Regions from separate parts of the Homo sapiens genome. Here region 1 is linked to region 2. Evidence: fine-mapped QTL for protein levels in blood plasma. Region 2 holds a variant in brackets. A gene starts in the other region. All regions are shown on their forward strands.

Region 1 (4,346 bases), not on the chromosome of region 2:
ACACATAAACATATGTCCCAATAGTCCCTTCCAGCTATTGCTGTCCACTCACACTTATAACCATTCAGAGCTATCTCCTTGCTATTAATGTCTAACTTTCTTACTGACCTACCAGCAGGGTTTCCCCCACCCAGCTGTGTCCCTTCAGGATCTAAGGAACTATTAAATAAGAAAAAAAATTTTTGTCCATTCCTGTTCCACATCCTGTCAGCATGACCCTTCTCCTTCTCTATGTCCTTCTGAGGCATCCTAATTACTCCACAGAGCTTCACACTGCATGCTGTAGTCCAAAGTACATTGCAGCTCCCCTCCTTCTTTCCTGACACCCAGTTTGTGACCAGTCATGTACTTGGTGGCTGGTCATTCATTAGCTCATACTCATACTCTCTGTTGTTGCTGTTAATCAACCTCAGCAAGCTCTTGATGTTAAGGACTACGACTTCTGTTTCTTGTACTCCAGGCAGTGCTCTATCATATATAGCTGTTTAATTAACGAATGAATTAGTTAACTTTAACTCAATTCCAGAAATTAAATCATATTTGGCAGCTCAAACCTATAAGTTATAGTGCATTTCTTATCAATTTTAAAATAAAGAGTTTATTTCAACCTTTCTTGAGTGCAAGAAAGGTTCAGTTTTATCCAGAAGTAGGAACATAAACTTATTATTTATTTATTTATTTATTTTTTTGAGATAGAGTCTTGCTCTGTCACCCAGGCTGGAGTGCAGTGGCGTGTTATCGGCTCACTGCAACCTCCGCCTCCTGGGTTCAAGCAATTCTCCTGCCTCAGCCTCATGAGTAGCTGGGACTATAGGCATGTGCCACCACGCCTGGCTAACTTTTTGTATTTTTAGTAGAGATGGGGTTTCACCGTGTTAGCCAGGATGGTCTAGATCTCCTGAAGTGTGATCTGCCCACCTTGGCCTCCCAAAGTGCTGGGATTACAGGCATGAGCCACCACGCCCGGCTGGAATATAAACTTATTAAATATCTCTGTAAATCCTTCCCAGTTGGGTAGCTCTGTCCTATGATTTTGCTATCTGGGCAACTGTAGATGATGAATTAGCTGCGATTGATTTTCATCATCAGTCATCAGCCATAGCATCTGCTATACCTCTGTTGACTCCGTCATCTCCTAGGGAGCTTGTACTCAACATTAATGACAACATTAGCCCAGGTGACATGTAATTAAGAAAGCAAACCTTTTTCCAACCAAAAATAATATGAGAGATTCCAAATCCAAACAGAACAGAGCTGTGGATCATTTCATGTTTGTCTTCATATCATTCTCTCCACTCCACTCCACTGACACAGCGTGATGCTTGATTGTCCTCTAAGCCCCTTCCATTGCTGTCATCTGGGATGCTGGCAATGTATTGTGCTGAAAGGGAAGCTTATTAATAAAGTTAGTAACTCGAAGAGTCAGTGCAGGTTATTTGTAGGATGCTCATTATGAGTCTTGAGTCTGACTCAGTCCAGAAAGCAATGGAATATTCCGCATAACCACCTAAAGGACTTCTCTTTCCCCCTTCCCCAGGGTCTGTTTCTCCTGTAAGGGTTCAGAGCTGCCTGGCAGAGGCTGGCTGAAATAGGAGAAATCCTGACTTAAGCTGTTTCAGGAAAGTGATCCAGTCTTTGGAGAATAATCAGGACATAATTAAGTATGAGTAAAAGGCTTAGAGTTAGTCTGTTCTCCTCTGTAATGGGGTGTTCACTAGTGTGACAGTTGTTTTTGTGACTATTGCTTTTACGTACATTTTTGACCAGCACTTGGAACACTACCTCAGGGTAACTTAAATGAAAGTCCATTTTCCAGGATGGAGTAAACTGACAGAAATTTCCATCGTGCATCAAATCTGCTATAAGTTGTTTGCCTTCTGGGTATTTTTGGGCCCTAGTTGTACTCCTGAAGAAATAACCACTGTTGCTCCAAGTAGAAAGTGGTTGAGGAGACAGCTAACAGATACGTCCAGTTCTTATTTTCTATCACAGAGATGTGAAAAAAAAAAAGCCTAAATTATCTTAGAAGGAAAAGCATTCCTCTGTGCTGGATTTCCAGTGCTTCCCAGCTTTGCACTGTTAGCTTATTTTTTCCAATGTCCCTATAATAACAATCCACTCCTTTCTCTGCACTCCTGGCCCCTCGTGATGTTTTATCATGCTCATGCTGAAAGAAAAGGTGTCTGTCCATACTGTATCTCTTCATTTGGCCTCAGGGATTTCCCTTTGATTTGGAAAGAATAATCTTTCAAATTCCGCTATAAACTATACAGGAGAAAGAGAAAAATAAGATAAAGCTCCTGGAATGTGCACTGGTATTGACATTTCGTTCAAATAATGGGCTGAAGGTGAACTATCTTTACTATTGCTCATGTGAATGATCAATTATTATCAATCCAAACTATCAACAGTGCTGCTTATTATTGATTTATACTGCATGGTTTAATTTTGTCTCCATCCTTCCAGACATTAAAACATAGCCAATATTTAGCAGTTCCCGCCATTCACCATGAGCACCTCCACAGCCCCCAACTCCTCTCTCCCAGTTCTGCCCAGGATATTTATGGTGAGTAGCGAGTTATCTCCTCTTTGGCAGTCATCCCTGCTTTCCTGTGTGGAGGAATTGCCCACATTCGCATTTGCAAACAGAGGCTCACTCAAGTGTCACTAAAGGAAAGGAGGTGGAGCCTGAAGAGCTTTAAAAAGCAAAGCTGAGTCATTCCACTTTTCAAAAAGAGAAACTGTTGGGAGAGGAATCGTATCTCCATATTTCTTCTTTCAGCCCCAATCCAAGGGTTGTAGCTGGAACTTTCCATCAGTTCTTCCTTTCTTTTTCCTCTCTAAGCCTTTGCCTTGCTCTGTCACAGTGAAGTCAGCCAGAGCAGGGCTGTTAAACTCTGTGAAATTTGTCATAAGGGTGTCAGGTATTTCTTACTGGCTTCCAAAGAAACATAGATAAAGAAATCTTTCCTGTGGCTTCCCTTGGCAGGCTGCATTCAGAAGGTCTCTCAGTTGAAGAAAGAGCTTGGAGGACAACAGCACAACAGGAGAGTAAAAGATGCCCCAGGGCTGAGGCCTCCGCTCAGGCAGCCGCATCTGGGGTCAATCATACTCACCTTGCCCGGGCCATGCTCCAGCAAAATCAAGCTGTTTTCTTTTGAAAGTTCAAACTCATCAAGATTATGCTGCTCACTCTTATCATTCTGTTGCCAGTAGTTTCAAAATTTAGTTTTGTTAGTCTCTCAGCACCGCAGCACTGGAGCTGTCCTGAAGGTACTCTCGCAGGAAATGGGAATTCTACTTGTGTGGGTAAGTACTCCAATGAAAAGGTGCTCCAGGTCTCCGGGAAACTGCCCCCACATCCCTGTTGGTTCAATCTGGTATACTTGGGCATTTAACAAAGTTTGTCTTTGGGTATGTATAGTTGCTTAATTTTTGTTTTCTGATGCATGTTTATTTTCTTACTGGCCATTAGAGCTAATCTGCTACCAACTATAAAACTTCATAACTCTCAAACTGTACTTCTGTGTATAAGTGAATGAATATGCCTCATTTTAAACTAGCAGAACATTTCATGGAAGCTTCAGCTTTTACTCTGACAAGAGGAGTAATTAACACCTGGCTAATTGCTTGGAAATTAGGGAAACAGATGGTTGATTTTTTGTTTGTCTGTTTGAAACTCTTAAGCCACAAAGAAAAAAATCCTTCCTTCTGATAACTTGTAAGAATTCAGAAGTTCTAAAAATTAGTGAAAAATGGAAAGGGAACTGTGAACAAAGGTAGTTGTGAAAATTAACCTAAATTTCAATTTCAACCTCCTTCACTTTCTCCCCACTCTTACTGTTTCTGAGGCTCTGACACAACTCCGGAGTTTTAGTAACAGGTGCATTGCAACTTTAAGAACTGCCAAATATGATAATGGGTAAATAAGCCACACTGTCCTCTCATATTAAATGAATTTTTTGCCAAGGGGAAATGGGAGCTTGACTGAATGCGAATTACAATCCTGCCAAAGGATATTGCCTGAAAAACATTCTCTCTCTAACTGTTAATTCATTTATTTAATCCTTGGGTGAGCCTCCAACCTGCTGCTTAGACACGGCAGCCGCCTTTGTTGATGAGAGGTTATAGCTGCCCCGACATTCCATTTTTATCAGCTTGCCCTTTTGAGATGGCGTCTGGCTTTTAAAAAGAGGTAGATTGAGGGGGAAAACACAGTACAGTTTCCAGAAGAGACACCTATGGAAGACAGTACACAATAGGCAATAGTTTGAATAAAGAGAGCAGAATGGAGCCAAACTGCCAAAGCTAGGCTGCTGTCCTGGCTCTCCCATTAAGGAAGTTCC
Region 2 (4,408 bases):
ATATCCACTTCTTCCAGCTCTGACACAGACTACATATATATATGTATATATATGTATATATGTATATATGTATATATGTACATATGTATATATGTATATATGTACATATGTATATGTGTATATATGTATATATATGTATATGTGTATATATGTATATGTATGTATATTGTGTATATATGTGTATATATGTATATATATGTATATATATGTATATATGTATATATATGCATATACGTATATATGTATATATGTATATATGTATATATATGTATATATGTATATATATGTATATATGTATATATACGTATATATGTATATATGTATATATACGTATATATGTATATATGTATATATACGTATATATGTATATATGTATATATGTGTATATACGTATATATGTATATGTATGTATATGTGTGTATATATGTGTATATATGTATATATGTATATATGTGTATATATGTATATATGTATATATGTATGTGTGTGTATATATGTATATATGTATATGTATGTATATGTGTGTATATATGTATATGTATGTATATATGTGTATATATGTATGTATATATGTATATATGTATGTATATATGTATATATGTGTATATATATACACACACACACACACATATATATATATATATATTTTTTTTTTTTTGAGACGGAGTCATGCTCTGTCGCCCAAGCCGGAGTGCAGTGGAGCGATCTCGGCTCACTGCAACCTCCACCTCCTGGGTTCAAGCGATTCTCCTGCCTCAGCCTCCCAGGTAGCTGAGACTACAGGCATGTGCCACCACGCCCAGCTAATTTTTTTGTATTTTTAGTAGAGATGGGGTTTCACCATGTTGGCCAGGCTGGTCTCGAACTCCTGACCTCAGGCGATCCACCTGCCTTGGCCTCCCAAAGTGCTGGGATTACAGGCGTGAGCCACCGCACCCAGCCGACACAAACATTTTTGATGAAAATTTCAGCTGGGGAATGAGCAAAATCGGTATCAAGGAATAACAAAATCTTACAGTCCTCATTCAGTTTAGTTTCTTTGCAGTGAGCACATGCCACTAGTACAAAATGTTTGTGAAAACAATTAGAAAAGCTGTCCCTGATGATCCCTGCCTTTTTGTTAGCAGAACAATGGACTGGTAAAAAATTCACTCCTTGAAAACAGCAAGCTTTTTCACCTGCCTGTCACAGTAAGTTTACATTTATGTGTGCCTGCTGCATGAGCACATTGCAACATAGTTATTCTGTCCTTGGCATCCCTAATTCCTGTAGGGGCTGTCTCACCAGCTGTAGTCAATGTATTTCTGGGGTAATAACAGCAAAACAATAATGTTTCATCAGCATTATAGACTTGTTCTGCTGTCAGATTTTCATCAGCAATGACCTTGGCACACTAGTTAATTTCTCTGCTGCTTCATGATCACCACGAATCTTTAAAAAAATTTAATGCTGTGTCTTCTCTTAAATCTGCACCTAGCCTGCTGAATATTCACAGTTCCCTTCAATATTCAGTTCATCGTGATAGATCTTTGCTTGTCTCATGATAAGCAGGCCATTAAGTGGCATATGCTCACTGCAATGCTAATGGATGCACTCTTTCAATACATGATCAAGATCTTCATTTTCAGCTTTGCAGTGTTTTTCTATTTTTCATTAACTTCTATCCATCACTTTTAGCACAGAAGTTCAACAGTTTATCCATCTGTTTCTTCAGGTCACATATGGTGGTCATTCCAACACCATACTGTTCTGTAAGGCATTTCACACTTCCACCGCCATCCAATTTTTCCAACAGCATGACTTTCTGTGCTATAGATAAACATAAGTGCTTCTTTTTTTTCTTATCACTGTTACCCATAGGGGTATCTTTTTGGCATTTCCAACAATATCTTTAAACACAGAGCAGAGAATAAGCAAAAAAAAAAAAAA[A/C]CACAGTGAGTAATGCACATAGGTCTTGGCCCTATATGGGGCATTGTGGGGAACCTGCCATTGGTGCATCCAGCTGCATATGTACAATTTTATTACCCTTTACAGGCACGCTTGTTGGGGGGTAATCTGGGCATGCACAGAAAAGATATACCACAGCTGAAAGGGGCCGGGAGGGTCTTTTTTTCTGTTGGGGATGCTGAATAAACCATGTTGTGCAACTGCATTTTGACTGCAACCTATCACATGAGGTCAGGTGTGGAATGTTCCATTTCTGGCATCATGTGAGCACTCGAAAAGTTTCAGATTTTGGAGCATTTTCAAGTTTGGATTTTCAGGTTAGGGATGCTCAACCTGTAATTGATTTCTGTCATCTAATCATAGTAGTTAACACCTCCAATACAATGTTGAAAAGTAGTGGATAGTGAACATCCTTGCCTTATTTCCAATGCTAGAATTCCCTATAGTGTATCCCCATTAAATAAGAAACTAATTTTAGGAATAACATTCAATTATGTTAAGAACGTATTTTTTAATTCCTATCTTCCTGAGTGCTTTATGACGAATGTATGTGGATTTTTTTCCAAAGGCTTTCTCTGCTTTTAAGGAGGTAATAATATTATCTTTTTTCTTTTTTCGAGACGGAGTCTCGCTCTGTCGCCCAGGCTGGAGTGCAGTGGCTCAATCTCGGCTCACTGCCAGCTCTGCCTCCCGGGTTCATGCCATTCTCCTGCCTCAGCCTCCCGAGTAGCTGGGACTACAGGCGCCCACCACCAGGCCTGGCTAATTTTTTGTATTTTTAGTAGAGACGGGGTTTCACCGTGTTAGCAGGATGGTCTTGATCGTGATCCGCCTGTCTTGGCCTCCAAAAGTGCTGGGATTACAGTCGTGAGGCACCGCGCCCGACTGTTTTTTTTTTTGTTTTTTTTTTTTTTTTTTTTTTTTGAGAGGAGTCTTGCTCTGTCTCCCAGGCTGGACTGCAGTGGTGCAATCTCGGCTTACTGCAAGCTCCGCCTCCCGGGTTCACGCCATTCTCCCGCCTCAGCCTCCCGGGTAGCTGGGACTACAGGCGCCCACCACCACACCTGGCTAAATTTTTGTATTTTTAGTAGAAACGGGGTTTTAGTAGTTTTAGTAGAGACAGGGTTTCACCGTATTAGCCAGGATGGTCTCGATCTCCTGACCTCGTGATCTGCCCGCCTCAGCCTCCCAAAGTGCTGGGATTACAGGTGTGAGCCACCATGCCCGGCCAGCCAGGCTGGTCTTGAACTCCTGACCTCAGGTGATCCGCCTGCCTCAGCCTCCCAAAGTTCTAGGATTACAGGCTTGAGCCACAGTGCCTGGCCTATATAATTTTTAAAAAGCAATATGGACAAAAGAATAAGACCCAGAGGGGATACACACACATACACACACAAAAGGGTAGTCTCTAATTGGTAGGTGTCTAGTACATAGGGTCTATGGTTCAATCTGTCCCTTTTGGTATAAATTAGCATGCCAAGATACAGTTTGAGTCAGCCAATCCTCAAGAATTACATTTTTATCTGAGGTACATTTTAGAATCTAATGTAGTGTCATTAGACACATGTGCAAATTTTTTTTTTTTTGAGATGGAGTCTTGCTCTGTCACCCAAGCTGAAGTGCAAGGCATGAGCTCGGCTCACTGCAACCTTTGCCTCTTGGATTCAAGCCATTCTCCTGCCTCAGCCTCCTGAGTAGCTGGGATTACAGGTGTGCGCCACCACGTCCAGATAATATTTTGTATTTTTAGTAGAGACTTCTACTAAAGGCTTCACCATGTTAGCCAGGCTGGTCTTGAACTCCTGACCTCAAGAGATCTGTCTACCTTGGCCTCCAAAAGTGCTGGGATTACAGGCATGAGCCACTGTGCCGGGCCAAGATGTGCACGTATTTTGTGTGCATACTGTTCACCATCCCCCGCAACTACATGGAAAGCTTGTCTGGGAGTTTAGATAAAGATGGCTCCAGAGCTCTTGCCGAATTCCCTGGCTATATCAGGTGCTCAAAAGTTGATGACTTACTATTATTTTGATATAATCATAACCCTTCATGATGCTTTGCAGGTGTTCAAAGCTCTTCTATGTATTTTCTTATTCGACCCTCACAACATCTCTTATTGGGCTGACTTAGCAGAGTATCTGCGTTTTATAGCTAAAGAGAAAAATATCAAAGAGATTAAGTGGCTTTGCTAAGGCCATATGGCTCACATGGGGTAGGGCTAGGACTGGCACAAATCCACTCTTCTTTGCTTTATGCCGTAGTGCTCATCAGAGCCTGAATTTCTTTTAAGATATGTTTTAATAATATGTCCCATCACAGTGTTTGATAAATGATAACATCAATAGCAGAGATATCATGTAGGCAAAAACAATTTAGGAATTGCATTTTTAAGTGCTCACTCAGCCTTAAGAGGGTAATTATATAATGAATTTAGAAAACCCAACCACTTTTAAAGACTTAC

Which allele goes with the higher level. Positions count from the first base shown, and alleles are read on the strand shown. Strength reflects both the effect of a copy and how common the allele is.
As copies of A replace C in region 2, the plasma level of the protein whose gene starts at base 2,730 in region 1 goes up (weak association).

Evidence for each region. A credible set is the group of variants that fine-mapping cannot tell apart. PIP is the posterior inclusion probability: the model's chance that the variant is causal. The UK Biobank Pharma Proteomics Project read protein levels with antibody pairs (Olink). The fine-mapping took linkage between variants from a reference panel, not from the people measured, so its PIPs are less certain.
Region 1: it holds the start of EGF, and the variant in region 2 is the best candidate, but not a certain one, in a credible set for the plasma level of the EGF protein (UK Biobank, PIP 0.90).

Annotation. Positions count from the first base shown.
Region 1 is chr4:109,910,154-109,914,499 of GRCh38, forward strand. It overlaps EGF (epidermal growth factor), which reads left to right and starts at 2,730. Exons shown (of 24, transcript NM_001963.6): 1 at 2,730-3,309. The coding sequence starts at 3,183.
Region 2 is chr9:96,428,708-96,433,115 of GRCh38, forward strand. No RefSeq gene overlaps it. Among named protein-coding and RNA genes, the nearest start is that of ZNF367, 13 kb to the left of the region's middle. The variant A/C (reference allele first, on the strand shown) is at 1,930.